Linked DNA regions of Homo sapiens. The protein of the gene in region 2 purifies or fractionates together with the protein of the main gene of each other region. This does not show direct contact. Each region holds a gene or a part of one and is shown on either strand. Other genes may lie near its edges. The genes, in order: ADCY9, PLXND1, ENTPD2, STAM, STAM2 and VSIG1.

Region 1 (4,831 bases), on a different chromosome or scaffold from region 2:
AGTGGCTCATGCTTGTAATCCCAGCACTTTGGGAGGCCAAGACGGGTGGATCACCTGAGGTCAGGAGTTCAAGACCAGCCTGGCCAACATGGCGAAACCCCGTTTCTACTAAAAACACAAAACAAGTAGCCGGGCGTGGTGGCAGGCACCTGTAATCGCAGCTACTCAGGAGGCTGAGGCAGGAGAATCGCTTGAACCCAGGAGGTGGACGTTGCAGTGAGCCAAGATCGTGACACTGTACTCCAGCCTGGGTGACAAGAGTGAAACTCCATCTCAAAAAATATTTAAAAATCGATCTTTTTAAAGTGTACAGTTCAGTGGTTTTTAGTATATTTAGCAAGGTTGTGCAACCATCACCGTGATCAATTTCAGAACATTTTTATCATCCCAAAGAGAAACCCTGTTGAAATACCACAAACCAGGTGGCTTTTAAACAACAGAAATGTATTTCTCAGGGTTCTGGAGGCTGGGAAGTCCGAGATCAAGGTCCCGGAAGATTCAGTGTCCAGTGAGGACCCGTTCCTGCTTCACAGATGGTGCCTTCTCCCAGGGCGAAGGGACGAGGGATTCCTCTGGGGCCTCTTTTATGAGGGCACTAATCCTATTTTGAAGGCTTGTCCCCCATGACCTAATTACCTCCCAAGGCTTTGCCCCCCAATGCCATCCCCTTGGGAATTAGGATTTCAGCGTCTGACTTTTGAGGGGGCACAAACATTCGAATCGTAGCAAACCCCACGCCCCTTAGCAGCCACTCCCCCTTCCTGCCCCCGGTCCCGCCTGGCAGCCAGGAATCTGCCTTCTCCCTCCAAGGATTCACCTTTTCTGAATATTTCACATAGACGGGATCACGTAATATCTGTGCTGTGTCTGGCTTCCCTCCCCGAGCATAATGTTTTCGAGGTTCACCATGCTGTGGCAGGCGTCAGTGCTTCCGTCTTTTTCGTGGCTGAGTAATATCCCATTGTTCGAATAGACCACAGTTTGTTGATCCATTGTTCAGTCAGTGAACATTCCCGGTTCCATTTTTGGGTCCTGTTGCGTTCGTGCCCGGGTTTCTGTGTGTTTCCACTGTCACTTTGCCCGTTGGCTTTCAGCTCATCCCCGAGCGGTTCTGTGTGCCTTCCCCTTGCTCACCACCATGCTGCGTGACGGCAGATGGCAACAGCGGACCTGCCTGAATTCAGGGTGGCAGTCGCGGTTTCTGGGTGTGTCCCCACAGTCTGTGTTTTTCTTCTAGACCTGCCCTTCGTGCGGAATCACATTTGCTCCCAAATCTGAAGCCGGCGCCGAGGGAGGAGCACCTCAAAACGGCTGCCAAGACGAGCATAAAAACAGCACCAAGGTAACAAGCTCATGGCTGTTGTTCCTGTCAGTTCCTCTCCTGGCGCATCCACCCAAGGTGACATTCCTGTCTTGTCGACTTCTTAGTTCTGAGAGTAACTCCTCTTGGGTAACAGCACTCCGCACCCGCGGGTCCTCCGGGTGTTGAAGAGACCGGCAGGGAGCTCGAGGGAGGGTCAGCAGCAACCCACGTGGAAACCAGCGCTCAGGGGCTGAGCTGGGCGGGATTCCTTTAAAGGCCAATAAGGGTTTAAAATGCGTGGATTCGAGTGCCGGGAGGGGATTTGTGGTACTGGAAGCTGGACTCAGTTTATGAGAGAATATAGACGGGCAGAGACAAGAGGGGGTCTTCACGGCGAGAAAGGCTGGGTGAAGAGAGAGGTTGGGAGTTAGGGCCGGTGGCAGGAAGGCTTTCAGGAAAACCAGACTTGGACACCAGGGCCAGGACTCAGCCCACCCGCGAGAGCCTGTCGGCGGGGGCTCATGCAGGCGACTCACCTGGGGCGCGGGCTCTCGTCCTCCATCTGCTCTCCATCTGCCAAAGGATTGCAGGTGCAGGTCATCCCATGCCTTCCCACAGCCACGGGGGACACCCACGACACGAGCCCGTTTCCATCCACCTTGCCTGTGCCCTGACAGCCCTGGACCCCTCGTCATACTTCTCCTGGACCCCCGACCCATGCACCCTGCTCCCAGAACCGTGGTTCTGGCCTAAGCAGACTCTGGGGGCCTCGGCTCCTCACTTTCCTCCCTTCCCCTCCACCTCCGCACCGACTCTTCCCATGTCTCAATGTCCTGGCAGCCTGAACACCCAGCGTTACCACTGGGCACTGTTGGGTAACAGGAAGGAGCAGACGGGCAGTCAGGGCTGGGATTGGAGCAGGTCTGTAGGCGCAGGGGGGTGGGGGTTCCTCGCAGGTCAGAAAGTCCCACGCCCAGTGCAGCAGCGCCCCGCAGCGGAGGTCGGGGTGGGACAGGCGTGTGTGCCCAGTGCCCGGTGCCACTTCACTTCCCGTGTCTGCGTCCTCTTTGTCTCGAGGCAGGCTTCTGGAGGACCTAATCCCAAAACTCAGAACGGGCTCCTCAGCCCTCCCCAAGAGGAGAAGCTCACCAACAGTCAGACTTCTCTGTGTGAGATCTTGCAGGAGAAGGGAAGGTGGGCAGGGGTGAGCCTGGACCAGTCGGCTCTCCTTCCGCTGAGGTTCAAGAACATCCGGGAGAAAACGGACGCCCACTTTGTGGACGTTATCAAAGAAGACAGGTACGACTGGGGCTGTCTGGGAAAAAGCAAAGGTTGCAGGCAGAAGCCTCTCTGCCTTTTTCTTTTCTTTTCTTTAAGACTGAGTCTCGCTCTGTCATCCAGGCTGCAGTGCAGTGGCGCGATCTTGGCTCACTGCAGCCTCTATCTCCCAGGTTCAAACGATGCTCCTGCCTCAGCCTCCCAAGTAGCTGGGGTTACTGGCACCCACCACCATGCCTGGCTAGGTTTTGTATTTTTAGTAGAGATGGAGTTTCATCATGTTGGCCAGGCTGGTCTCCATACTCCTGACCTCGGGTGATCCACCTACCCCACCCTCCCAGAGTGCTGGGATTATAGGCGTGAGCCACCACGCCTGGCTTTTTTTTTTTTTTTTTTTTTTTTTATAAGGACTAGGTCTTGCTGTGTTGCCCAGGCTGGAGTGCAGTGGCTCAATCTCGGCTCACTGCAACCTCCACCTCCCAGGTTCAAGTAATTCTCCTGCCTAGGTCTCTCAAGTAGCTGGGACTACAGGCATACACAACCATGCCCAGCTAATTTTTGTGTTTTTAGTAGAGATGGGTTTTTAACATGTTGGCCAGGCGGGTCTCGAACTCTTGGCCTCAGGTGATCTGCCCGCCTCGGCCTCCTAAAGTGCTGGGATTACAGGTGTGAGCCTGTGCCTGGCCTAATGGTAACATTTTTGAAAAATACAGGTCCAGTCCTTTTATCAAATATTCCTGAAGTTGGATTGGTTAGATTCAGGCTCTCCCTCTGGCCAGGCAGAGACTGCAGAAGGGATGCCGTGTCCTCCTCAGGGTGTCCTCTCCAGGGACACGCAGTGCCCGTCTGTTCCTCATTAGTGATACTAATTTTGATTAATTAGGCAAGGTGGTGCCGGGTTGTCTCATCTAGGGTTATTATATTCCTCTTATGACTAATAAGCAATCTGTGAGAAAATACTTGAAGATCTTGTACATATTTCATTCCCCATCAGAATTCCCTAGATTTAACATTCATTGATGATTCTTGCCTCTGTCTTCACTATAATGCCTCAAAGGGTGATTTTCAGCCAGGCGCTGTGGCTCACGCCTATAATCCCAACACTTTGGGAGGCCGAGGCAGGTAGATCACCTGAAGTCAGGGGTTCAAGACCAGCCTGGCCAACAAGGTGAAACCCCGTCTCTACTAAAAGTACAAAAATTAGCTGGGCGTGGTGGCGGGTGCCTGTCATCCCAGCTACTCAGGAGGCTGAGGTAGGAGAATCGCTTGAACCCAGGAGGCAGAGGCTGCAATGAGCTGAGATCGCAGCACTGCAACTCCAGCCTGGGCAACAGAGCGAGTCTCCATCTCAAAAAACAAATAAGAAATAAATGGAGCAGCACAGCTAATAGCAGTGTCGCTTCTGCCACTTGACTGCTAAAATGTGGCCTTGTGCACATCCTCTCTGCAGCTGCGTGGTTGCTCTTCCCTCAGTCCACACTCCCTGAGTCAGGGGAGGAGAGAGGGTCAGTGTCCTGGGACAGAATTATTTCTCTTCTGAGTCTGAGAATGTTGGAAGTTACTGGATACCTGTCACAGAAAGGAGAGTGTCCGCCGTGCTGCAAGGACAGGAAGGAACACACGTGATGAGCCGTACTTTGTGTGGGGGGCACATGAGGCACTTGACATATTTCACCTGATTTACTCTTTTTTTTTTTTTTTGAGACATAGTCTTGCTGTGTCACCCAGGCTGTAATGCAGTGGCGCCATCTTGGCTCATTGCAACCTCCATCTCCCAGGTTCAAGTGATTCTCCTGCCTTAGCCACCCGAGTAGCTGGGATTACAGGCACCTGCCACCAGGCCTGGCTAATTTTTGTATTTTTTGTAGAAACGGGGGTTCACCATGTTGGCCAGGCTGGTCCCGAGCTCCTGACCTCAGGTGATCCGCTTGCCTCGGCCTCCCAAAGGTCTGGGGATTACAAGGATGAGCCACCGCGCCCAGCCTCGTCTAATTTACTTCTGATAGTCACTGTATGAGGGAGAGAGGCTAACACAGCTATATTTGCTTTCTGAAATCATGTTAACGTTCCCTTAGTTTCTAGTAATTTTCTGCAGTATAGAAAGGATATTACTATTTGCTGGCAATTCATAAATGAATGAAAGAGTCATGGAAAGCGGGGTTGATTTCCCTGCTATTAAAATCACTGAGCTTTATCATTCTGCAGGTTTCACATGCAATCTGCATATGTGACAATAGCACCAAAATTACG
Region 2 (4,812 bases):
TCCTAACGCCTGAAAGAAGTGCCAAGAACACTCCCAGTTCTTTGTCAGTCACGGGCACCCTGCCTTCGGAGGCAGTACGTGAGTAGTAGTGGAGCGATGGCATTTTCTCCTTCCCGTGGTCCGTCTCTGAAATGCGTGGGCTAAATGCAGGGTCACACACGACCTGGACCAATCCTGCAGTGCCAGCTTTAATGATACAATCTCATCCCTGCTCACAGCAACCGGCTGCTTTCCTGCCTCCCTGTCTTTGCCTGCGCCGTTCTCTCTGCCTGGAAGGCCATCCTCTTTCATCTTCAACCTCTAAAGCCAGACACAGCCTTGTGTGCCCCCAACACACCGCATGAATCTCAGAGCTCCTAGCCACCCATCACCCCTCTGCCCACCCCTTCACTGAATGCTCGCTTGAATGGCTTTTGACTTTCAGGGGCTACTGCCCAGAGCCTGGCCCGGTTTTCAGATGATGTTGTGCCTGACCAAGCAGGTTGTCCAAGCTCATACTGGCTTTCCCACACCGGGTTCTCAGGCCTGTGTTCAAAGCCAGTGCCAGGCACAGCTGCAGCATGTGCAGTTGGTCTGCAGCGATACAGAGTTTCTGATGGAAGGTACTGGCTTCTAGGTGTCTCCCTGTCTGAATGAGTCACTCATCCCACATCCCCTAGACCTGAGATCTTTTGGTTCCCCTCCCAGGAAGATCTCTGAGCTCAGCCTCAGAGAGTCGAGGAGGCTACCCATGGTCGGCACCCCACTCTGGCCCTGTGCATGGGCCTGGCCTGGTCCTGGGAACAGCTGACCTTGCCCAGCTGCAGGTCAGAGATGGAGCAGGCGTCGATGAAGGCCTGCGCGATGACTGAAAGGCAGGCGTCGATGTGGTCTGTCTTGTCGATGTCAAAGACAAACTGGGGGTTCTTCAGGATGTTCACCCAGAACCGGAGAGGAAGGCTGTGGGGTAGGGTGACAAAGACAGTGAGGGTAGGGTGGGGTAGGAAGCAGTCGAGGGACAGTTGTGGAGGAGAGAGCTGGCTTTGTCCCTCAAGGGCCTGAGGTTGGAGCCTTGTCACAAGATGTGACCTTTGGGAACCTTAGTTTGCCTATCCCTGGCCAGCTGGGGTGCAGTGGGGCTGAGAGCCCGGTTTCCTGCTGGAGCAAGGCAGGAGCTACAGGGCTTAGCTGTACCCCCCAACCCCCTCCTGAGCCTCCAGTCAGGTCCTGGTTCTCATTAGAACCAGGTGCCGGCCCCCGGGCACCCCTGGCTCCTCCCTGAACCCTTGCAGGCAGCAGGAAGTCCGACATTAGCAGAGCAGCTGTGGCAGGGCTGTGGGGGGCAGGGCCTGGAGCTCTGGCCTTGTCCTCAAGAGGCCAGAGAGGGTGAGCAACACCCCCACCCCCACCTCAGGCCACCCAGTGACTCAGCAGCCTGGGCATGTGTACCCCCAGAGCTCTAGGAAGCTGCTGCCCTGCACAGAGGCGCCTGGGCTGGTGGTATTCTTCCTGAGGGTCAGGCTGGGTTTCCAGCAACTTCTTGTGGGGGTGCATGACCCCGACAAGCTAAGAGGTGCCTCAAAGGAGGGCTACCAACTGGGTAAGAGATTCAGATAATGTAGGGCCGAGCCTGGCTCTACTGTCCCAGGCTGTGTGGTCTTGAGCAGGTGCTGCTTCTCCGAGCCTCAGTGTGCTTATCTGTGAAGTGGAGCTGATGGTGCCCACCTGAGAGGGGTGCGGGAGAATGATAGTAAGGGCAACACCTAGACCATGCTTCTGGGCACTCTTCTAGTTAATTCCCACCATTAACATGGGTCGCATTTTACAGTGGAGGGGAAACTGAAGCACAGAGAGGCTAAGTCACTCATCCGAGAACACACAGCTGGGAAATGGCAGAGGAGGGCTTGACCCCAAGCAGGCGAGGCCAGAAGACTAGACTCTGAACCCCCTGCCACAGGGGCCCCAGTGGCACAGTGAAGTCCACACGGCCCCCCCACCCGCCACCTGTTGGTCTTCCAGATGTGTAGGGTGTCGGGGTCGGAGATTCCCCTCTTCTCAGCCTGCTCCTCCAGGAAGTCGAAAAAGTACTTGACAGCCAGTGGGGGCTTGTCTTCACGGATACTCAGAATGGCCTTGAACAGGTCATCCAGAAACTTCTGCAACGTGCCCTGCGGGGGAGTGGGGTGGCCGCCGTCAGCCCCGGGCCACGTGCAGAGGGCTAGTGGGCACCCTTGGTGGCTCTGCGGAGCTTGAAATGCCAGGCTGCTGAATGAGGAAGCCACATGGCATCAGGCTGGTCACCGAGCCTCTCTGGCTCACTTGCCTCCCAGAGGCGTTGAAAGGACTAATCGAGGCACTGGCACATGGAGTCGAGAACTGGAAGTGCCAGAGTATGGGCTGTGGGGTGCCGGCGCTGCCACTGAGCCACGTGGCCTTGGGGACATCACTGATCCCTCTGGGCCTCTGCTGTACCCTGTTACGTGGGCTAACATAGAAGTCTCTGTCAGGCATTTTTCCTGGCTGTGAGAAATGCCTCCTCAAGTGGGACCCTAAGCCTTCAGCCTCTTGCCCCTCCAGCCCCACAGGGGAAACAGGAAGAACTCACACCCCTCTCCCAGCCGCGGGTGCACAGCTGGCCCTGAGCAATGACCCTCTGGAGCTGGGGCTGGAGCCTTGTACCCACTGCACAGAGGGGAGACTGAGGCCGGACTCACCTTGGTGGAGAGCAGGCGGGTCAGGTAGATTTCCGGGAGCACCTTCTTGCGATGGCTCTGCCGGTGAGACTTCTTGGGCTCCGCCAGCTCGTCCGTAGGCAGCACCTGGGAGGCCGGGCAGTGGTCAGTGTCCGCACCAGGCCCCATCCTCGGCCGCCTGTGGGAGGTCTGGCTCTGCCATGCTTCTTAGCACACAAGGGCTGTGGTTCCCTCCTGATTCTGGGCCCCATCCCTACTCCCCCACCCCCCAGCCTTTCGCAGGGCTGGGAGCACTTTTCCCAAGAGGCCCAGGGCCACAGAAAGCCAAGGCCACACCCACTGAGGGGCTGGATCCCCCGGGGCCGAGGTTGGGCACTCACCAAATGGAAATACTTCTCTGTGTCCAAGTCTTTCACTGTGAGAGGAAAAACACAATAAATAAACACGGGAGAGGAGAGGAGAGAAACAGAAATGAAGACAGAAAGATGGAGTGAGAAACAGAAACAAGACAGAAAGATGGGGAGAGAAACAGAAGCAGAGACAGAAAGATGGAGAGAGAAACAGAAACGGAGACAGAGATCCAAAGAGACAGTCAGAGAGAATGAGACAGAGATGCAGAGACGCATGGGGAGACTGAGTCTGGGAGAGACGGAGAGAGAGATAAGTGAGATCCAGAGACACACAGCGAGCGAGACAGAGTGAGGCAGAGAGAGAAAGACACACACACAGTGACCCGGGATGGAGGGACTTGGAAGGAGGGACAGCGGTGGAGAGAAACAGGAAGATGCAGCCACGGGGGAGGAGGGGCCCCAGGCAGGCGGGGGTGGGTGCCTTTGCCCACCCCACCCCTGAGCCCAGAGCTCCTGCCAGCCCAGATTCCCAGGCTGCTGGGAGAGACTGAGACTCTGCTCTCAACCTTAGAAGGGGACCCCGAGACCCAGAGGATCCCGGGCTCGCAGGCCTGGCAGCCAGGAGGCTGTGCCTGGGGCGTCTGAGGGTGTGGAGGGGGCACTTGAGGCAGGGACATGGCCCAAGGCTGAGACGGGCATGCTGGCCCCCCTTCTGGCCTGGCTGCTGCCCAGACCTCCTGGAACTGCATCCCGCCCTCCCGGGGCCTCTCTCCAGCTGCCGCAGGAAATCAGCTTGAGGAGGCCTGGTGTGGGCCCTGCCCCAGCAGTACTGGGTCAGAGGAGGCTGGCCCCGCCCAGCCCCCACCAAGGAGGCCTCAGCCCAGGCCAGCCCTGCCTCTCGGAGCCTCAGCTTCCCCACTGGGGCATGGGATGGAAGCCCCTGTCCACACGCAGCCTGGGCTCCCTTCCCACGTGCACCCGCACTACCTCGGCCCAGTGTGTTGTCCTTCTTGTCTATGAGACTCATGGCCAGGGAGGCACCTTCAGGGATCTGATGGGAGGGGAGAGGCCGAGGTCAGAGGCCGGAGGTTGGGGTGGGGGCATGAGGGTGGGGAAATGGGGGCGGGGGGCAGGGCTGCACCTTGTAATGGGCCAGCGTGTTAAGCTTCTTGCGGCCGTCTTCCACCACTGAGGTGTCGTCCAGGTCCCGAAGGATGTAGCTCTGTGTGCTGGAGGCGAACCACTCTGGGGGACAAGGGACAGGCCATCAGGGTCCGGGCAGGGAGCTGGGCCTGAGGGGTAGGTACCGGCCCAGCCACATAGGGAGAGGCCTCTCGCTCTCTCCATGTAAACTGAGGCAAGCCATACCTCTCTCTGAGCCTCCATTTTCCCATCTGTAAAATGGGGAGGGCAGGAAAGAGCTGGGGGAGAGTGTGAGGGTACAAAGAGAAGGTGCCAGGGTGGAGGGCACAGAGGAGGAGCTCTGGAAATGGCCTTGTCTGCAAGGCTGTTCATGTTACAATTGCTGATGAAACCCTTGGCCTAACCAAGACTCCTATAAAACCCACTCCAGGCCCCGCGCGGTGGCTCACACCTGTAATCCCAGCACTTTGGGAGGATGAGGCAGGAGGATCGCTTGAGCCCAGGAGTTCAAGACCAGCCTGGGCAGCACAGCATGACACTATCTTTACAAAAAGTAAAATTAGCTGGATGTGGTGGTGCACTCCTGTAGTCCCAGCTACTCAGGAGGCTGAAATGAGGGGATCACTTGAGCCCAGGAGGTCGAGGCT
Region 3 (5,323 bases), on a different chromosome or scaffold from region 2:
CTCTTCCTGGCCCGAGAGGATGCGTGCACCCCGGAAGTCAAAGGGGTACTGGGTCAGTGTGTGAGTCACTGCCATGAGCACACTGGTCGAGGCCTCTGGATTGGTCAGGCTGCAAAACACAGAGAACTCCAAGAGGCCTTCTCCCCAGGTGGCTGTGAGCCTGCTGTAGGGGTGCTCGGAGTCCGCCCTGCAAGGGGTCACAGCCAAAGGCCATCATGGGGACAGGGCCAGGGCACAGGCACACTCACTTGAGCAGGCGCATACCCGCTGTGGCTCCCAGGTAGAGGGGTGTGCCCGCGTGTCTCTCTTTGGGCACATCCTGAAGCGCCTGTTCGAGGCATCCAACAAGACTCTGGCTGGCCCCAGAAGGGTTGTCTGCATAGCTGGAGATGCCCCCACCTAGAGGGAGGCAGAGAGATGAGCCTATGCCTCACGGGCAGCCCCTAGGTGGGCCGTAGGCCAGGAGAGTGAGGGTGGGGGTGGGGGCCGTGGGCTCCCAGACCAGGTGGCACACCTTCCCTGCTTAAGCCCCCAGAAACGCCCAGGTTGGAGACAAAGGGGCCCAGGTGCCACCCGGAGACCAAGGCTGCTGCCTGCTGAGAGGGTGTGGGTGCAGGTGCTAGGACAAAGCCCTGGGCATGGTCAACCCAGGTTGGCCTCCTGAGGCCTGCCTGGGTGTGTCCGCCAGGCCCCCAGACCTCCTCCTGCTCCATCTGGGGCACAGAAGCCAATACTGGGCCCGGCGAGGCTCAAACCTCCCCACCTGCTGCCTAGGCTTCCTTTCTAGAATGCAAACGACTCCTGGCCCCACTCAGGCGCAGGGGCACCAGCCTCTCTCTTTCCAGGGCTTCTGCCTGGAGTGAGCCCCACCCAACACTAAGCAGAAGGACCTGCACTGGCTAAGGCTGGAGAGGGTCCCAGAGACCCTGCAGTGAGTGGGCGTCCTGGCTGGGCTGGGCTGGGCCTCACCTGGAACATCACAGGAGCTGTGCTGGCCCACAATGCCTGTGTCGTTCTCCTTGTCTGCCGGCCACTTGTAGATAAACATGGACGTGTGTGAAGAACCAGCGTCCAGGACGATGCCATACTGCGGGGGAGGGGGAGGGAGTCAGCCTGGGGTGTCCGGGGGCCCTGACACCCTGACACCAAACGTGAAGTTGGGTTCCTCCAGTTTGCCACCGCTCCCCCCCCCACCCAGTCATGTGCCAAGCCTCATGCTGAAGCTCAGAGGAGGCCAGGGCCTCCTCTGAGGCCGTGGTTGGAAGGAGAACAGGGAGGTGGTGGGGAGGTGACTCTTCCCTCCTGACTACCTGAAGCCAGCATGCCAGGGTCTGGGCAGCAGCCTTCCTGGCAAGGGCAGACTGAGGGACTGAGTCAGGGACAGAGGGACAGAGGGTCCCCAGGGACTTTTCCCTGGGGCACAAGTTTCCCAGGCTCAGGGAGAGGAAGCTCCTCTGCAAGAGGAGCTCCCTAGAGTCCCTCTTCCTTCCTCCCCTCTTCCTTCCTCCTCTGTCTCCTTCCAGCTCCTCTGACGGCAGCCCAACCTGAGGATGCAGGAGGCAGGGCCCCAGGTGAAGAAGGTCCACCGAGGCTGGCCGTGGGCCTCAGAGCCAGGTCAGCTCTAAAGACACTCTCCCTAGGCCTCCAAGCCAGGGCCAGAGAGAGAGGCTGGCCCTGCCTTGTTGGGGGTGCTGGGTGGGCCTTCCTGCAGACCTGAGTGGCACGAGCTTGTAAATGCCCTTTTCCAGCTCCTGCCCCAGCATCCTGGATCCACCTGGAAAGCTGGGGACCAGCCTCCCAGGCCCGGGCGCCAATTCCAGCCTCCGAGAGGGCCGCACCAGTCCATCCCGACCAAGGCTTCCCCAGAGCCCAGAGCATCAACAGGTCAGCGCGTGCACCGCCACATGGCCGTCCTGCAGGGCCGCAGAGCTCCCTGCTTCTGACTCCCCATCAGGCTGGGGGACTTGGCTCTCCACCCCACCCCCCTACAAGCCCAATAAAGGGTTAAAGGGGCCGACCAGGAGGTCCCTGGGCCTGCTGGAGTGGAGATCCAGGCTAGCCTGCTCCAACCTTTTGAGGACCGGCCAGGGCTGCTCCGGTCAAGCCCTCCTGTCTTTCTGGGCCACTCTCGTGTCCTGGCGGGGGCCCTGGGTCCTGGGGCTTGTGGATCCCCATCTGGGCTGAATACCCAGTCGATGTGGCTCTAACCGCACCCTCCGGGGCGGCGGCACAGGGCAGAAGTGGCCCGGAGTGCCCCTGGGGGCCCGCACAGGCCTGGGGGCGGGCGTCCGGCAGCACCCAGGGGGCATCGCTGGGCTATCCCGGGAGCGGGGACACAGCCCCTGGGCTGCGTTGACGGACTCGGCGGCGGGCGCGGAACTCCCGGGACTTGTTCCTTCAGCACCGCGTCGCCCTGGAAGCGCCACCGCCCCCCGCCCCCTCCGCGTACCCGGTCGGGGAGCGCAGAGCGCGGAACCCGGGACCCCACCCAGCCCGCCAGGAGCAGAGCACGGTGGGGGTCCCGGGCTGATCCTGCTCAGGTTCCCAGCCGCACCCCCTCCCCGGCTCCAAGCCCGGCCCGCTGCTCCCCAGACGTGCGCTGGGTGCCCGGGCGCGCACCTTGAGGGCGGGCGGCTCCCGGACGTCGCGGGTGGGGACGCACAGCAGTAGGAGGCCGGCGAGGCCCGCGGCGGCCAGCAGCAGCGGCGGCAGCAGTGACCGCACCTTCCCGGCCATGGGCGGGCGGGCGCGCGGGAGGACGATGCGTGGACCCGGAGAGTGCGGGGAGCCGGAGGCGGAGGCGGGCGGGGCCGCGGGACCGCGGGGTAGGGGCCCCGGGGCGGGACGAGGGGCGGGAGGCCGGGCGGGCCCGCCCATCACCGGCCACGCCCACGGGCGGACAGGTTTCGCCTCCGCTCCCAAGCTTCCGCCGTCCGGCCCGCGCAGGTGAGAGACGCGGGCGCGGCTGAGTCACCAGCACCGCCCCCCGGCTCCCGGGTCTGAGCCCGGGCGCCCCGCGGCTATGGCCCACCTTCCCCTTCCCGCCCACTCAGCAAGGGGATCCCCCGGCCGTGGAGGCAGGAGACCTGGCGTGGGGGTGGGCGGGCGAGGCTGGCTCGGAGGGTCCTGTGCTGGAGAGCCGCGCTTTTCCCGGGCCCGGGAAAGGAGGCCAGACTCGCTTGCAGGAATGAGGCACTGTCGGCTGCGGAGCCACGCGGGGCCCGGGCTGGGGACTCAGGAGGAAGCCGAGGGTCAGCACCTGTTTGTGGAGCAGGGCCCTGAGCGCCAACTCCCAGGGCTGGTGAGGACCAGGCTGGCCTGCGGGATGCCCTCCCGGCCAGCAAGGATCCGCCAGCCTGCGGCGCTGAGCCAGCGCAGGTCAGCTCCAGAGACACGCAGCTGACCCAGGCCAGAACTACCCTTGAGGCCCAGTCAGATCCACCTCACCTGGGCCCTGTACTGAGGTGAAGGTGAGGACGCAGGAACGGGGAAGGGGAGGGACGGCCCAGGTCACACCGAGCCGAGAAACAGGAGAAGCAGCACAGACCGGGCCAAAGGTCCATACCTCCCAGCCCAGGGCCTCAGCCGCGCCTGCTGCCCCCTCGGCCTGAGGGGAACAGAGGCTTGGGCTGCGGAGGCCAGAGGAGGCTTCCCCAGGACGGAAACAGGTGGGGCCTCTACGTGGCCTGAAAGGCAAGGAAGAGGGTCCCCAGGCCAAGCTTGGGGTGCGGGTCAGCAACAGGCTTCTGGGGACGGCTGGGGCAGGCGAAGCGCAGCTGGCCCCAGACGCAAGCCCTGCTCCTCCGTCCCACGACATGGCTGGCCTTTCGGCTCTGCAGCCTCACAGGCCCCGCATCCCAGCCCGGCCAGGGGCCACCCCCTTTGCGCCTGCTGCAAAGTGGGAATTCTTGTCCCAATAATTCCAGCCACACAGCGTCAGGGAGCCACGAGGCAAGGCCACCAGGGAGTGCAGGCTGCTGGGGCCCAAAGGGCAGCCCCATGGGGCAGGGTCCAGACCATGCCCGGCCTTCTGGAACGGGCAGTGACAATTGTGCTGGGATTGCTGCCTGGGCTGAGGGTCTGGCGCCACAGGCCCAGTAAAGGCATCTTTCTTCCAGCTCAGGACCCCAAAGGGAGGGGTGGGAACCCTGGGAAGCCTCTCTGCTGCCTCAGCCTCACAGCCCAGCCTGGCGGGGCTCCAGCAGGCAATCTCTGGGTGTTGCCGGTGCTAAGCTCCAGGCCCCAGGCCCCAGTTTCCCCCCACACACCCCAGGCCTTTCTTCCACCCCTGACCGCCCAGAGGAGGGAGAGGCACGCACAGTGCACATCATGCCTGAAAAGGAAGGAACAAAGGCCGCCCAGAGGCAGGGTGCTGCGACCCCCACTGGCCTGCGGTACCCCGCTTCCCTCCAGGCCCAGCGGGGCTTCCTGGTGTTCTGGACTCTTTTCATGGACAAAAAGCTCAAGCCAGGGAGTGGGAGGTCTGCCAGGCCTGAGAGGATGGGGAGGGAGAGGGGAGCTGGACTCTGCCCCGGGGAGACAGGCTCATGGCCGAGTGCCCAGCTTCGCCTGCGGAGGGAGAGGCAGGGAGCCCAGAGCGGCCAGGACAAAGGCTGAGGCTGAGCTCTCTTTGAGACGGAGTGAGGGCGGGGGAACGCCCCTTCCTGGCATGGACTCAGGGACCCTGGAAGGCAGACTTGGGAGAGCGTCAGAGGGAAGCTGGCAGGAGCTGAAGGGGTGGAGGGGCCTCTGGGTGGGGCAGCTCTCGGCTTCCAGGACCCTCTCGGGGATGGGGCCTCCAGATGTGCTGCACATGACCCCGGCTGAGCTGGGAACATGCGGATGCAGAGAGGTTAGGGGAGAACCCCTGGGGGAGGGAACTCGGAGCCTCCCGCCCACGCAGGGCTCAGACCTCCCAGGGAGGGGGGCTTTCCTGAGGCCTGCTGACATCTTGGCTGCCCTGCCTCAGTCTCCACATCAGAAGCTTGTGCTGTGTGGCTCACGTCTGTAATTCCAGCACTTTGGGAAGCTGAGGCAGGTGGATCACTTAAGGTCAGGAGTTCAAGACCAGCCTGGCCAACATGGTGAAACGCCGTCTCTAATAGAAATACAAAAATTAGCCGGTTGTGGGCCGGGCGCGGTGGCTCACTCCTGTAATCCCAGCACTTTGGAAGGCTGAGGCGGGCGGATCATCAGGTCAGGAGATCAAGACCATCCTGGCTAACGCAGTGAAATGCCATCTCTACTAAAAATACAAAAAATTAGCCGGGCGTGGTGGCGGGCACCTGTAGTCCCAGCTACTCGGGAAGCTGAAGCAGGAGAA
Region 4 (4,831 bases), on a different chromosome or scaffold from region 2:
TGGCACCGTTGAGTTTTTATCTTTATCAATAAGGCTGCTTCCTGGCCATCACAGGATTTTAATACTATACTGCTATTCTTACTGGCTGAACCCACAGCTGGAGTTGCCTCAAAAGTGGTGGCGGGGGAGTTTCCACAAGGGACTGCCCCAAACTGTTCCAGATAGGGCCAGATGAGAGTCCAAAAAAAGAGGCACTAAATGCCAGGGTGATCAGTCTAAAGGATTTATTAGGGGAACTTACACAGGAGGGCTGCAGTTTATAGGAGGGTTTAAGGAATTTGGCTCAGGGTTGGGGCTGGTTTCTGTGTGTTTAGCAACATACTTGATCTTTTAGTGTTTTGGGCCACAACCTGAACAACTTTATCAGTGCCTGAGAATGTTCAAGGCCCCAGTTTGGGTCCAAACCTATGGTGGAAAACATGCAGCTGGCTAGGTCACAGAGCGGGACAAGGCACTCTGTTTTTCTATTGGGACACAGAAAGAAAGCAGGGAGAACTGGGGACCCTACAACTGCCCACTCAACTGTAGAATTCTAGTCACACAGTTCAAGAAATTTTTCAATTTTCAATTAGTAATATGTGAGTTTCCCCAGTAAAAATTTGTGCATTCTAAAAGTAATTATTTTTGGCCTTTTTAGGGGGAGTACTGTAAATCAAGAAAAAGTTTTTGTATGTTAAAAGGGAAAATGCCTCATGTTTTTGGGAAAAATGAATAGTTCCAGGTTACAGTAGAAAAATAGCAGTATAGAAATATAGTAAGAATGTAAAATTCTGTACTTTTCGAACATCATGGTTAAATGATAATTCTTTCCCTTTCCTGCTTTATGCAGTTAATATTTATTTTCTACTAATTAATAAACATTGTCTTTTAATGTCCTGAATGTCCATCGAGATTACAACTGTTTATGAAGAGATTCTAATACCATGTTTTTTGTAATGTAGGTGAAAAATGTGGTATACTTACCTATGTATAATAGTGCAAGCAGCCATTTCCAAAAACGACTTCCTATAGGCAAGAGGACTTCTCTTTATTTTCTGAATGTTTTACAGTGAACATATTGGTTTTGTACTTAATAACATCCCGCCTTTTTTTTTTTTTTTTGAGACAGTGTCTCTCTTTGTCACCCAGGCTGGAGTACAGTGGCGTGATCTCAGCTGACTATAGCCTCTGCCTCCCGGGTTCAAGTGATTCTCCTGCCTCAGCCTCCTGAGTAGCTGGGAATACAGGCATGCGCCACCACGCCTGGCTGGTTTTTGTAGTGTTAGCAGAGATGGGGTTTCACCATGGGGATGGTCAGGCCAGTCTCGAACTCCTGACCTTGTGATTGCCCACCTCGGCCTTCCAAAGTGCTGGGATTACAGGCATGAGCCACCGCGCCCAGCCAACATCCTGCCCTTTTAAAAAATTTCCTTTTATTAAACAAATTAAGTTCATGTATAGTCTCAATAAAGCGTTTGCAAATCCATTATATGCTCCTTGACCAAAATACAGATTACATGTGCACTTAGAAAGAATTTTTTTTCTTCTAATAGAGTAATCTAAAAGTCTAACCTTCTCCATTTTTAAAAGCTTTAGCCAATTATTTAGTAAGCATTGGTTTGAAATACATTCATGACATTTCATAGAGGAGTTATTTCTTCTCTGGTATCTGTGAAGGTTTCTTTATATCTATTACATCAAATAGTAAGACTTCAAATTATTGCCGCTATGAAGATACATCAGTATTTTAATGAACTGGCCAGGTTTTTTCCCTTAATAAGCAATGAGTAAAATAATTTATTTTGAAAACTCACTACATTTATCTCTTTCTTTAATACGGAAGAATAATGCCCTGCACACCTGCCTTAGACTAACTTGAATCTTTGTTATACATCAACCATAAAGAGTTATGTTATTTTGGGCTGGGCACGGTGGCTCATGCCTGTAATCGCAGCACTTTGGGAGGCTGAGGCGGGCGAATCAGTTGGGGTCAGGAGTTCAAGACCAGCCTGGCCAACATGGTAAAACCCCGCGTCTGCTAAAAGTACAAAAATTAGCTGGGCATGGTGGTGCGCGCCTGTAATCCTACTCGGGAGGTTGACACAAGAGAATCGCTTGAACCGCATCCCCCACCCCCCTCTGGGAGGCGGAGGTTGCAGTGTGCTGAGATCGAGCCACTGCAGTCCGGCTTCTGCCACAGGGTGAGACTCTGTCTCAAAAAACAAACCAAAAAAAAAGAAAAGAAAAGAAAGGAAAAAAAGTTATGTTATTTTGAAGAAATTAAATTTTCAAAATGATTAACATGCAGTGTACCTCAAACTAGGCCCCAGATAATTAAGCATCATGGAAAAAATGCATAGTCATGAACATTAAGAAGTCAGGAATTTGGAATAAAGGAACTGTATCATTTATTCTCTCCTTCCCACTTTTTTATTGCTTTGCAAAAAGCAGACACTTTTCCTTGTCTTACTGATGTACAAACCTTGCTTCGTTGCAAAATATTCTGAAAAGTCCTTTCAGATCTCCAAAATCTTATTACCTATTTAATGCTTTAATTTGAAGTGAGATATATATGATGGGTTTTTTCATAGTGTGAACATTAGTTTTATTTCGAATAACTATATTTTCTTGTCTATAGCTATGCATAACTTGTGATTCAAAAAACATCACTTAATAACTTTACTATTTAAAATGTCTGTATTAAATCATTGGCTAGGAAATTGGTGCTCTTTTATTTCTTTTTCTATTTTACAGGGTCATCCTAAAGTATGTGAAAAATTAAAGGCTCTTATGGTTGAATGGACAGATGAATTTAAGAATGATCCACAGCTTAGTCTAATATCAGCAATGATTAAGAACCTTAAGGAACAAGGAGTTACGTTCCCAGCTATTGGCTCTCAGGTATTTTGGGAATGAAGTTGTGTGTGTGCTACAGTTTGTTTCTCTTAAATAGCTATATTTATTTGAATTTTTTTCTTCATTCCCAGGTAATTTTTACTACTTCAGAGGAATTTTCGTTAGCTAATTGTGTTAGTAACTAGTTGTATTGCTAGTTAGTAATACTAGTTTTCTGGCATTCAGAGGTGCCAGAAAAGTATTATAATGGAATATTAATGTGCTCTAACCTCTCTACTTCTTTATAAACGAATTGGTTTAACATTTTGCAGTTTTTGAAATTTTTTGGTATAGTTTTTGTTTGTTTGTTTTTGAGACGGAGTCTTTGTTTGTCGCCCTGGGTAGAGTGCAGTAGCGTGATCTCGGCTCACTGCCACCTCTGCCTCCTGGGTTCAGGTGATTCTCCTGCCGCAGCCTCCTGAGTAGCTGGGACTACATGCACGTGCAGCCAGACCTGGAAATTTTTTTTTTTTTTAAATAGAGGTGGGTTTCACCATGTTGGCCAGGCTGGTTTCGAACTCCTGACCTCAGGTGTTCTGCCCGCCTCGGCCTCCCAAAGTGCTAGGATTACAGGTGTGAGCCACCAGGCCCAGCCAGTACAGTTTTAATAATATACACAAAATAGCTTTATTAATTAGGTAACACTGTCTTTTTAAATGCTCTTAATGCTATAATTTTCTACAAAGAATGATAGCTCAGAAATCAGGATATCCTTAAAAGTTAGGGATGACTTGAGAGATTCTTTTGTGGAGGAAATTTATGAATTCCTCTATTAACAATGAGAGGACTTTAGAAGGGGTAAATGGGAAGAGAAGCACCTGAAGCATTTTCTCCTTAGTAAGAGCCGACCAGTACATAAGTCTTCCTTTCCCCAGTGGATATGGCTAAATAGCTTAACTTTGCTCTCCTGTCCACCCTTGTGCCAAAAAAATTCAGTCTCTAATTTATGTCATGTAGAAAAAAATCAAGAAATGTCTTTTTTATTCCTATTTCTATTTTGGGTAACCTTCCTTTAGGATGCCCAACTAATCAAGAGGCTTAAAATATGTGCTGATTTACTACACTGTCTTTCCCCAGTTTATTGACTGGGACAGACTGTAATGAGTGATGTGAAACCATGAACAGAAATCTGTGAGTGTGGAGGGGCTTATGTTTTGACCACTTCAGGGAGTCATGTAGCTTATCTACATTCATCCAGACCTACATGTGCTTTCTTCCCAAGGCATTTCCAGTTTATCTGAGCACTCTTGAGATGTGAAGACTCAAAAATGTATCTGGGAGAGGAAGGAAGCAAAGGACATTCTTCTTCTTAAAAAAATTTTGGTTTAAAATTTTCTTAAAAAAATTATGTCTTTGAAAATTCATTCATTCATAACTGATAGCTGGTTTTTACTACTCAGTATAGTTTCTAGAATCTGTATAATTAAGGAAAAATCTTAAACAGAATAATCCAAGACATTATACATTCCTTGACAACAGAAACAATGTTTATTTATCAAAGAGTAGACTCACTGCAGAGAACCCACCTAGAATAGGTAGAGAAAATGCAAGCCCACTAAATATCTAGAGTCTTTGGTTCTTGTTAACTCAAAACTTGGTTTGACCAGCATCACTGGCATTACCTGGAGGCTTGTTAGAAATGCAGCATGGTTGAACCCACTCCAGACCTATGGGTTCATTATCTCCATTTTAACAAGATCTTCAGAGGATTTATATGCACGTTGAGGTCTGAGAAGCACTGCTGCTCTAGAGGACAGCCTTCAGTGCAAGTGAAAACTGCGTTTCAGTCCACAAAGGGACTTACTCTTGTAAGAAAAGGAAGAATTAATGATTGTGCCATATGTACCCTTGTTTGGTTAATCTAGAATCTTAGCCACGGAAACAGTTTTAGGGAGCCTCTAATCTAATCCGCTCATTTTTACAGATGAGGAAACTGAGACTCAGAATGGTTAAGTGA
Region 5 (4,831 bases), on a different chromosome or scaffold from region 2:
TGTTTGGGAGATGAGTGAATCAACTTTTTCTTTCTGATTAATAGACATATCCAGTTCAATCACATGGTGGAAACTATATGGGTCAGAGCATTCACCAAGTAACTGTTGCCCAAAGCTATAGCCTAGGACCCGATCAAATTGGTCCACTGAGATCTCTGCCTCCAAATGTGAATTCCTCAGTGACAGCACAGCCTGCTCAAACTTCATATTTAAGGTAAGTTTTGGGAGCTGTGTTAATTTTATATGTGTTAATTTTCCTAGATTTTCAGAATGAGAATATATAGACCCTTATTAAGATGAAGTTACAGAACTGTTTATTCATAATCCTGTGAAGTGGAATGGTGTTACCTTAGCTTTGCTACCCATACTGAGATTATTGCCCGCCCTTAAGCTTACAGTCTGCATCCTTGGGGCAAAAGCTAATTGTCCTTTATGAGACTAAGCCCATGATGTGCTTAGCACTGTGCTATAATCAGCCTGTGAAGTAGTCCCAGACTTATTTATCTGCATGCACTCCTAAAAATTAGAAAACTGTTGTTACTTTGACCCTTAAGAAGGGCGTTTGAACTGTGGAATTTGTAGTTCAGGTTTTTTTGTTTTGTTTTTTTGAGACAGAGTCTCCCTCTGTCACCCAGGCTGGAGTGCAGTGGCTAGATCTCTGCTTACTGCAACCTCCGTCTTCCAGGTTCAAGCGATTCTCCTGCCTCAGCCCCCTGAGTAGCTGGGATTACAGGCACGCGCCACCATGCCCAGCTAATTTTTTTGTATTTTTAGTAGAGACGGGGTTTCAGCATATTGGTCAGGCTGGTCTCGAACTCCTGACCTCGTGATGTTCCACCCGCCTCAGCCTCCCAAAGTGCTGGGATTATAGGTGTGAGCCACCACGCCTGGCCAAGTTTTTTTTTTTTTAAGACAAGGTCTCACTCAGTCGCCCAGGATAGAGTGCAGTGGCATGATCTCAGCTCACTACAGTCTTGACCTCCCGGTCTCAAGCTATCCACCCACCCTCATCAGCCTCTCCAGTAGCTGGGACTACAGGCAAGCACCACCATGTTCTGCTAATTTTTGTATTTTTTTGTCAAGGTGGGGTTTCGCCATGTTGCCCAGGCTGGTCTCAAACTCCTGAGCTCAAGGGATCTGCCTGCTGTGGCTGCTCAAAGTGCTAGGATTACAGGCATGCACCACTGCACCCAGCCCTATAGTTCTTTTTTTAAATAAAAACACTTTTACTCTAAGAGTTGTATTTAAATCTTTCTTTCTATTCATTTTGCTTAACCATACAAAATGTTCATTCAATATAATCATATGTAGATGATCTATAAGGTCTCTTCTCACCCTCAAACTCCATGAGTATGAATTTTAGATATTATATGAATATTAAATAAATCTGTTTATATTAGTGTTCAGTTAGAATAAAATATAAAATTTTGCTATGTTTGGTAACACTAGGAACTGTGGAGAAAAAACTGGTGTAGTTTTGAAACTAATTCTCTTTTATTGCAAGCAGTATATTTGGTGGAATTTAAAATTACATAATTTTTTTTATTGAAACTTTTTTTATAGATGGGGTTTTATCACCCAGGCTGAAGTACAGTAGTGTGATCATAGTTCACTGCAGCCTCCAACTCCCGGGCTTAAGGGATCTTCCAACCTCTGACTCCTGAGTAGCTGAGACCACAGGCGCATACTACACCCAGCTAATGTTATTAATTTTTTGTAGAGATGGGTATTGCCATGTTGCCTGGGCTGGTCTCAAAGCAGGCTGACCTCAAGCAATCCTCTCACCTTGGCCTCCCAAAATGCTGGGATTAAAGCCATAAGCCTCCAAGCTCAGCCCTAAAACCGCTGGGCATAGTATGTATATATATGTGTATACACACACACACACACACACACACACACATATATATATATATATATATTTTTTTTTTGGGGACGGAGTCTCACTCTGTCACCCAGGCTGGAGTGCAGCAGCATGATCTTGGGTCACTGCAAGCCCCACCTCCCGGGTTCATGCCATTCTCTTGCCTCAGCCTCCTGAGTAGCTGGGACTACAGGCGCGTGCCACCACACCCAGCTAATTTTGTTTTTGTATTTGTAGTAGAGACGGAGTTTCACTGTGTTAGCCAGGATGGTCTCGATCTCCTGACCTCGTGATCCGCCCTCCTCGGCCTCCCAAAGTGCTAGGATTACAGGTGTGAGCCACCGCTTCCAGCCAAAAGTATATATATTTTAAGAGAAATGTATGCCACAGTAGTTATAGGAACAAACAAGTCTTGCAATTTGGTGTGATTTTTCAGCTTAGTTTGTGAAGTGTCAATAAAGAAACTATAGTTTCGGACTATCCTGAGGGTTGATTTTGGGCCCTATACAGACTATGCTGTTTTCCTTTTAAAAGTAGAAAGTCCTTACTGAAGGAAAGCTTGAAGGATGTTTACAGAGAAGAGGTGGACTTCTTTGTGCTGGATTGGGAGATGGGGAAGGGAGAATATGGGCTGAAAGTGGCATCTTGAGCCAGGGCTCCATTCTCATTGCAAATGGCCAAGGGTACTTCTGTCAGGAACAGTTTGCATCTCCTCAGGTGGTTTCTGAATGTTTTTAGTTAGAGATTCTGGAGAAGGGAAGTTAAATTGGCCTTAGAATCTTACATTTTGTTTGTTTTCAAGTACCTCTCTCTTCTTACCAAATATAAAAATTACATTAACAAGCTCGGCATGGTGGCTCATGCCTGTAATCCCAACGCTTTGAGAGGCCAAGGCCAGAGGATCACTTGAGCCCAGTAGTTTGAGACCATCCTGGGCAACATAGCAAGACCCAGTCTCTACAACAAAAATTTTTTTTTAATTAGTTGGGACTAATTTAAATTTTTTTTAAATAGTCCCAGCTACTCAGGAGGCTTAAGGCAGGAGGATTGCTTGAGCCCAGGAGTTTGAGAATGCAGTGAGCTATGATCTGCACCCCAGCCTGGGCAACAGAGCAAGATCCCATCTCAAAAATAAGAAGAAGAAAATTTGATTAACAGTATTCAATGGCTGGAATGATTAAATTGTAATCAGAACAGCAGAGCTACGTAAGCTTAAAAAGAAGATGGAAAAGGCATTTTTGTCATGATGATTGATCTCTAACCTTATATATTGCAAAGTAAATATGGTTTTCTTTTTAAAATTTTGTTTGTAGCACTGGACAAGACACTGTTTCCAATCCTACTTATATGAACCAGAACTCTAACCTACAGTCAGCTACTGGTACAACTGCTTACACACAGCAAATGGGGATGTCTGTGGATATGTCATCTTATCAGAACACTACTTCCAATTTGCCTCAACTGGCAGGCTTTCCGGTGACAGTTCCAGCTCATCCAGTTGCACAGCAGCACACAAATTACCATCAGCAGCCTCTCCTTTAGAAACAAATCAAGCATTTTCTTGAAAGCCTTCATAAGTGTATTATTCAGTCCTTGTGATACCAACCTGAAAATATTAAAACTTTTTTCCCTCTCAACTCAAAAGGACCATGAATAAATAAAGCACAAAAACCTCTCTTATTCTACAAGGCCATAAAAGGTTTTTTTTTTTTTTTTTTTTCAGTCCAGTTTGTTTGAAGTCAATCTTTTCATCAGAGGCAGCTTAAAGATGCTTTCAGTTAGTTTTGTCTTACTTTCAGATTTCTCTACATAAATCTAGATACTCATTAAGTAGCCTTATGACAAACAGTATGAGATACTTATGACAAACTCGCTCTGTCACCCAGGCTGGAGTGCAGTAGCATGATCGACAGAGTGAGTTTGTCAAAAGTATCTCATACTTATAAACAGTATGAGATAGGAGGATTAAAATATTATTTTAAAGAAACCACTGTTTCCCCCTAAAATGTCATAAGAGCACTGAAGAACTTGAAATATTTTTTTCAGAGTTTCTCACACACTTTAAAAGTCTAACTTTTTTGTGTGTAAGCATTTAGCTTGCCAGCATATTTCTTTTTGGCTCCTTAAATTGCGGTTGTGTTTGCAGTATTGTCACTTTTGCTCTCACTGTTATGTTGAATAATAATTAGCATATAATTGTCTACAGAAGCAAGAGCAATCTGGAAGGAACAAAAATGTTTTCTGTGATTAACAGTGAAGACCTTGTAAATGCAGATGTGTGATAAAGCATTTAGTCAGTCCCCCAAACAGTCATGCCAACTGTGAAGGAATGTCCCACAAAACATTTCCATTCCCTGAGGAAAAACATTTTCTTTCCTACATGTATCTCTGGTATTTAGAATTGTCACTAATAACCTTTTCAAGTGATTTTGGCTATTCTCTAATGAAGATATGGTCCATTTGTTTTTCTTCCTGCAATGTGGTGTGCAGAGATGCTGCATATCCTTTTTATGGGATTGCGTGTGAATTTGAACCATGAGACATTCCTAATAATTTGTTGTGAGATATACCAAGCATGGATGATAAGTGTGTTTTTAGTGGTGTGTTGTTTTTTTAAAGAGGTGATTCAAGTACCGTTGCTAAGCTGTCAACATACCAAGCTGTTGAAAAAATTGACCATTTCTTTCAGAAGTAATTCTCAGCCTGTGGAATAATAGCAGGTGAAGACTTCATAGAAGGCGACAGATTGATAGGGAGGCTATTGAAGCAGTTTTTCTGAAGCCTGCATTTTGAGTTAGTTTATAGTGCTAATAGATTCTATATAACTGTGAGAGTTTGGTAGTAAACCAGTAGGGATTGTTTTCTCTCCTAAAAATTTGCACACTACTTCATTGTCTACCAACTTTTTACATATTGGAAAATAGAAATTGCAAATACATACATGTATGGAAACATATTCAGATTGGG
Region 6 (4,831 bases), on a different chromosome or scaffold from region 2:
ATGGCCATCCAAACCACCTGGTTCTTTGCCCATTGCTGTTTCCTTCACCTAAACTGTGCCTTGCCATCTCAGCCCCTCTTCTTCATCACACACTCTTGCACATCCTTCAACATTCAGCACAAAAGTCACTTTCCTCAATAAGCCTTCTCCAATTCCTGATACAGCTTTTTGCCCTTTCCCCTGTGCCCTCATAGCTCTCCTCTCATACCTCCACTGAAAGCTTTTATGTTACGCGTCTGTCTCCTTCACTAGACTGAATTTTAGAGGGCTAAGACCCTATCTTTTACATTTCCCCATGTCCATTGCTTAGCACAGTAACTGGCACGTGTGCTCAGGGTTTGTTAAATGAATTCATGCATGAACGAGTAAATGCATGGGATTGATGCTCACTGCTGGGTAACAAAACATCTGAAAGATACATTGCTATGAGAGTCATCTTTAAGGAAATATCAACACCTCTCCCCACAATTAACCTGTCTCTCTTACCCACCTGTCCCCATCTTGCCTCACCTTTCAGTCAGGGCAAGCAAAATTGTCACTCATATACAATGAGATTTGAGAATTGCAAATAGTCGCTGCAATTTTTAGAGAAAATTAGCAGTCTCAAATTTTCCAAAAAGCCTACATTTGGAGGAGGCCTTTGTTCTTTGCCCAATTAACAAAAACAATATTTTTTAGAGTTCCTAAACAAACAAGGAAATCCACAGACCCTTCTGCCTCTTACCTTGTCTGGATCCTGGCTGCTTAAGGAAAAGTCATGACACAGAGCTATCTGACACAAAGACTCATGGGAAAAAACACCTCTGAGATGAAGTGACCCTCAACTTCTTATGGAAATTGATTTGGGATCCTCTGAGCTTTAAATTTAAGAATATTAACCTTCTTGTCTAACTTTATCTCAGGGCTATTTCCAAGCTCTGAGATGAAGAGACTTGGCTTCTTTAGATTGTTTCTGGTCAGAACATCCCAGAACCAGGAAGCAACAGAAAATCATTAGCTAATCCCTCCAGTTTTTGAACATTTAAAAACCCCTTTGATCTCCAGTATTTCATTTTATAGGTAAAATAACAAAACTGTTCATAACAAACCTGTAAAGAAGACAGGGCAGAAATTATAACCCCATCTCACAATGGTCAGAGAAAGGTGGACTGACTTGTATAAGGTCACTGAGTACAGAGTAAGATCTAAAACTCAGGTCTTCTGAGTGCCAGTTTGATGCTTTGGCATTTATAGCACATCACTTAGTTCCCATGTATATAACTAACTAGTTGATATGGTTTGGATCTGTGTCCCCACCCAAACCTCATGTCAAATTGTAATCACTAATTTTGGCGATAGGGCCTGGTGAGAGGTGACTGGATCATGGGGGCGGATTTCCCCCTCGGTGCTGATCTTGTGATAGTGAATGAGTGCTCATAAGACCTGGTTGTTTAAAAGTGTGTGGCATCTTCCCCTCCCCTTCCTCCTGTTCCAGCCATGTGAGACATCTTGCCTCCCCTTTGCTTTCTGCCATGATTGTAGTTTCCTGAGGCTTCCCAAGAAGCTGCTATGCTTCCTGTACAGCCTGCAGAACCGTGAGACAATTAAACCTCTTTTACTTATAAATTACCCAGTCTCAGGTATTTCTTTACAGCAATGCAAGAATAGACTAATACACTAGTCTTCCAAACTGAAACAGAAACTCTCCCAGGAATTTGCTTGAGTAATACTTCTCTTGTCTGTTCCTGTACCCCAATTCCTGGCACAGAACTCAGTAAGATAAAAATATGATTGATTAAGCTAACCCACTCTTAAAAAATAGCTCTTAGGTACCTTTCCCTCTTTCCCAGGTGGGTAGATGCAGTGGCAAACCTCACAGTAAATGTCAGCTGGTTCCTTTGTGGCATTACCTGAGTGGCAAGCCAGGACAACTGTAAACAGTTCTCTTGGGTATGCACCTTGTTACCAATTGCTGCTTTTCCAAGCTACTCAACTATTAAGTCACTGATTTGATGTAGTTCCTCCTTTCTTGTGATGTGTGCACACAGCTTGAGAGCAGCAATGACTAGATCAGCTTCATTTGGGGCTACCTAGAAGTGGGAAAATGCTCATCTCAACTGGTCTGTCTGTAAGAGTTGAGGATTGGCAGCCCTTTCATCCCTTGCTTCGATACTTCCCAATACCAGCCTGCAGATGGAAGTTTAGCCCACATTGTCCTCTCAGACAGAGATTGTAAGGACTTCTAGAAATGGCCAAAATTGGGAGCTTCCCAAGGGCAAAAACAACACCTCCATCACTGTAACTCAATAAATACTGAACAAATGAGATTCCAAATTCATTTTAAGAGCAGATACGGCTTGCCCAATATCATATAATGAATATTTGTATGTAAATATGTTGATTCTCAACACTAGATTAATTTCAGTCCTTTTTCCAAATAACATTAGCATTTTAAAAAAGGGACTCTCCTGTCTTTATTTAAAAGAATAATTTAATGGTGGGAATTGTGTCGAGCTTAAAAGGAATAATAAGTTGACAGTAGTCTCCCCCAGGTAGATCTGGCTGTAAATGGAGGTTTCCTCTAAAAGAGTTGCTAGTGATCATTTTGTGGGACAGTGGATTGTCTCATCTGTTCTCATTCCATCCCTCAGAGATAGGGATCACTGGAGGTTGGGTCATCTACTGCTGTCATTTTGGCAGCCCGTTTGCACAATTGTTCTGCATGTTTTATGAGTGATTTCTCAGTGTTACTGTTTTGGTTGGGCTGGTGGCTTGTCTCTATTTCCCTGATAATGAAAATATTAGGGAGTATATTTACCTACAGAGACTTAATTGGCATCATAACTCACTGTCCTGGCTCATTCAGTGTCCTAACTTTTTCCAAGAAAAGAAAAAGCAGAAAAAAGTGCTCATACCTAACACACTGACGTTGAGGATGCCTTGGTTTTGGCCGAGAAAGTCTGGGGGGTTGTTAACATCGCAGATGTAAATTCCACTGTCTGCTGGCTGCATATGCGAGATAGTGATAGATGCATTACCTGGATCGTTGGACCCTGTAATTCGATCTTTAAATTGCCCGATGGCTACAGCTTGTCCACCTTGAGAAAAGTAAATCTAGACAGAAAAATAACAGAAGTGAGAACTGGAGAGAGTCCAGGACTAGGATAAGCTACCTGAAAGCTTCTTCTAAACACATTACCTTTGATAAAGAAGCAGCATCTTCCCCCCACCAGGAACAGGTCCCTGTGGCCAAGGTTTCTCAACTCAGTGGGGCACTTTAGTTTGCTCACAGCTGCGCATTTGGCCCTCAGAGCAGCTCTGTGATGTCATCAGGGCAGGGATTAGTATGCCTATCTTACAGAGGAGGAGGCAGCTGGAGCTGACAGGATTCAACACCTAAGCTTGGGCTAGGAGATCAAGATGCTCACTTAATGAATCCACCTGAGAGAAACTCATTATGTAGAACACAAATGTCTGATGGGAAACCAAAACCATCATTTTTTTTTTTTTACCATTTTATAAACTTCTTAAAATTTGAATTTACCTTACCCAGTGAGACTATCTGGTTTCCTTAAATGTTCAAATGTTCATGCTCCTTTTAGACACACCTACTCTTTTGGATAGACAAACTTGGGTTTGTTTTGTTTATTAGAAGCAAAGCGGAAAAGCATCTTAGAAATCATCTGGTCCCATCCCTTTATAGTGGTGTTGTGAAGATGAAACTAAGAAATCTAGTAAAGGACCTCGGAAGTGCTCAGCCAATGATAGCTACCATCTTTCTCCCCATGTGGCAGAAGGCAGAACTGGAATTCTTCTGTCATTTAAACAAATAAGGCATCTCAGACCCAGAGAGATTAAGTGACCCATCTGAAGCCACAAGGGCTCATTTATTATTATTATAACTTATTAAACTTAAGATCTGGATTCTAGTCCCATTTCTATTAAAGAGCATAGATACTTAGATCATAATGGCAACTGTGGGAGCAGCATGATGTGGTGGAAAGGGTCCTGGTCTAGGGGTCAGGTGGCTTGAGTTAGTCACAGCTCTGCCCCTCACTGTGATATAGTTAGGGGAGGTGGCCTCTAGTCATGCCTCCATGGCAGCCTGGTTTTAGATAAGAAACAAAGTTATTTAATCTCTCCAACCTTTACTTTCCACATCTGAATGAGAAAAGAGAGTAATGTTTTCCAAAGTATGATATGTATTTACCAAGTATAGGCATTTAAGTTGATTTTAGGTAGTATATAAATGAAAACTTACAAATTTCAATGTGTATTAGAAACAGAAAAATCTAGCACATTAAATCTATGACTTCCTGAATATTGTTGCATAGGGTAGATTAAGGTAGATATTTTTTAAGATTTTAAGAAAACAAGTCAATACAGAAAATAACATTAAATAACAAATAGTGCTGGTGATACACAAATATGACAAAAATCATGTAGATGGTACATGAATGACTGAAGCTGGGAAATCACTGGATTAGGTAATTCCTGAGGTCCCTTCATAATACACACCTTCTATGTACATGTTTTGTTGGTTTCATGTAAATGTATATTATTCAAGTGATTGTTATTGTTCAATAAACTGTATTGTCTTAGTCTGGTGAGACTAATTTTTCATAAAATCTACTGGAAGGCCTTACAGTTCATTTAATTCACTTCCCTCAGTTTACAGAAGAAACCAAAGCCCAGAGAGGTTAAAAAATAAAAGGCAAAATTGACGGTTGAGACAGATCTGGAATCCAATTTTCCTAATTCCTTGTACTGTGGGCTTTACCTTAACAGGCCAATAAAAGAGGGAAAGCAATTAGAAAACCAAAAGATATTGTCTAGATGAATTCAAATGTAT

What was found.
Region 1: the proteins of PLXND1 (region 2) and ADCY9 purify together in Homo sapiens (co-immunoprecipitation; one large-scale study listed by IntAct). This does not show direct contact.
Region 3: the proteins of PLXND1 (region 2) and ENTPD2 purify together in Homo sapiens (co-immunoprecipitation; one large-scale study listed by IntAct). This does not show direct contact.
Region 4: the proteins of PLXND1 (region 2) and STAM fractionate together in Homo sapiens (co-fractionation; one large-scale study listed by BioGRID). This does not show direct contact.
Region 5: the proteins of PLXND1 (region 2) and STAM2 fractionate together in Homo sapiens (co-fractionation; one large-scale study listed by BioGRID). This does not show direct contact.
Region 6: the proteins of PLXND1 (region 2) and VSIG1 purify together in Homo sapiens (co-immunoprecipitation; one large-scale study listed by IntAct). This does not show direct contact.

The regions. Positions count from the first base shown.
Region 1 is NC_000016.10:3,989,917-3,994,747, reverse strand, and holds part of ADCY9 (adenylate cyclase type 9), read left to right. Parts: intron 1-423; exon of another isoform or gene 424-1,237; coding exon 1,238-1,342; coding exon of another isoform or gene 1,343-1,399; exon of another isoform or gene 1,400-1,706; intron 1,707-1,839; exon of another isoform or gene 1,840-2,384; coding exon 2,385-2,602; exon of another isoform or gene 2,603-2,618; intron 2,619-4,831. UniProt on the Homo sapiens protein: Adenylyl cyclase that catalyzes the formation of the signaling molecule cAMP in response to activation of G protein-coupled receptors.
Region 2 is NC_000003.12:129,557,637-129,562,448, forward strand, and holds part of PLXND1 (plexin-D1 precursor), read right to left. Parts: intron 4,268-4,812; coding exon 4,164-4,267; intron 4,074-4,163; coding exon 4,010-4,073; intron 3,088-4,009; coding exon 3,053-3,087; intron 2,799-3,052; coding exon 2,694-2,798; intron 2,148-2,693; coding exon 1,984-2,147; intron 940-1,983; coding exon 792-939; intron 1-791. UniProt on the Homo sapiens protein: Cell surface receptor for SEMA4A and for class 3 semaphorins, such as SEMA3A, SEMA3C and SEMA3E. Plays an important role in cell-cell signaling, and in regulating the migration of a wide spectrum of cell types.
Region 3 is NC_000009.12:137,051,262-137,056,584, forward strand, and holds the start of ENTPD2 (ectonucleoside triphosphate diphosphohydrolase 2), read right to left. Parts: upstream 2,801-5,323; 5' UTR 2,737-2,800; coding exon 2,620-2,736; intron 2,115-2,619; exon of another isoform or gene 1,749-2,114; intron 1,615-1,748; exon of another isoform or gene 1,088-1,614; coding exon 970-1,087; intron 400-969; coding exon 249-399; intron 110-248; coding exon 1-109. UniProt on the Homo sapiens protein: In the nervous system, could hydrolyze ATP and other nucleotides to regulate purinergic neurotransmission. Hydrolyzes ADP only to a marginal extent. The order of activity with different substrates is ATP > GTP > CTP = ITP > UTP >> ADP = UDP.
Region 4 is NC_000010.11:17,685,294-17,690,124, forward strand, and holds part of STAM (signal transducing adapter molecule 1), read left to right. Parts: intron 1-2,733; coding exon 2,734-2,880; intron 2,881-4,798; exon of another isoform or gene 4,799-4,831. UniProt on the Homo sapiens protein: Involved in intracellular signal transduction mediated by cytokines and growth factors. Upon IL-2 and GM-CSL stimulation, it plays a role in signaling leading to DNA synthesis and MYC induction. May also play a role in T-cell development.
Region 5 is NC_000002.12:152,119,149-152,123,979, reverse strand, and holds part of STAM2 (signal transducing adapter molecule 2), read left to right. Parts: intron 1-44; coding exon 45-214; intron 215-3,177; coding exon 3,178-3,406; 3' UTR 3,407-4,831.
Region 6 is NC_000023.11:108,065,198-108,070,028, reverse strand, and holds part of VSIG1 (V-set and immunoglobulin domain-containing protein 1 isoform 2 precursor), read right to left. Parts: intron 3,094-4,831; coding exon 2,895-3,093; intron 1-2,894.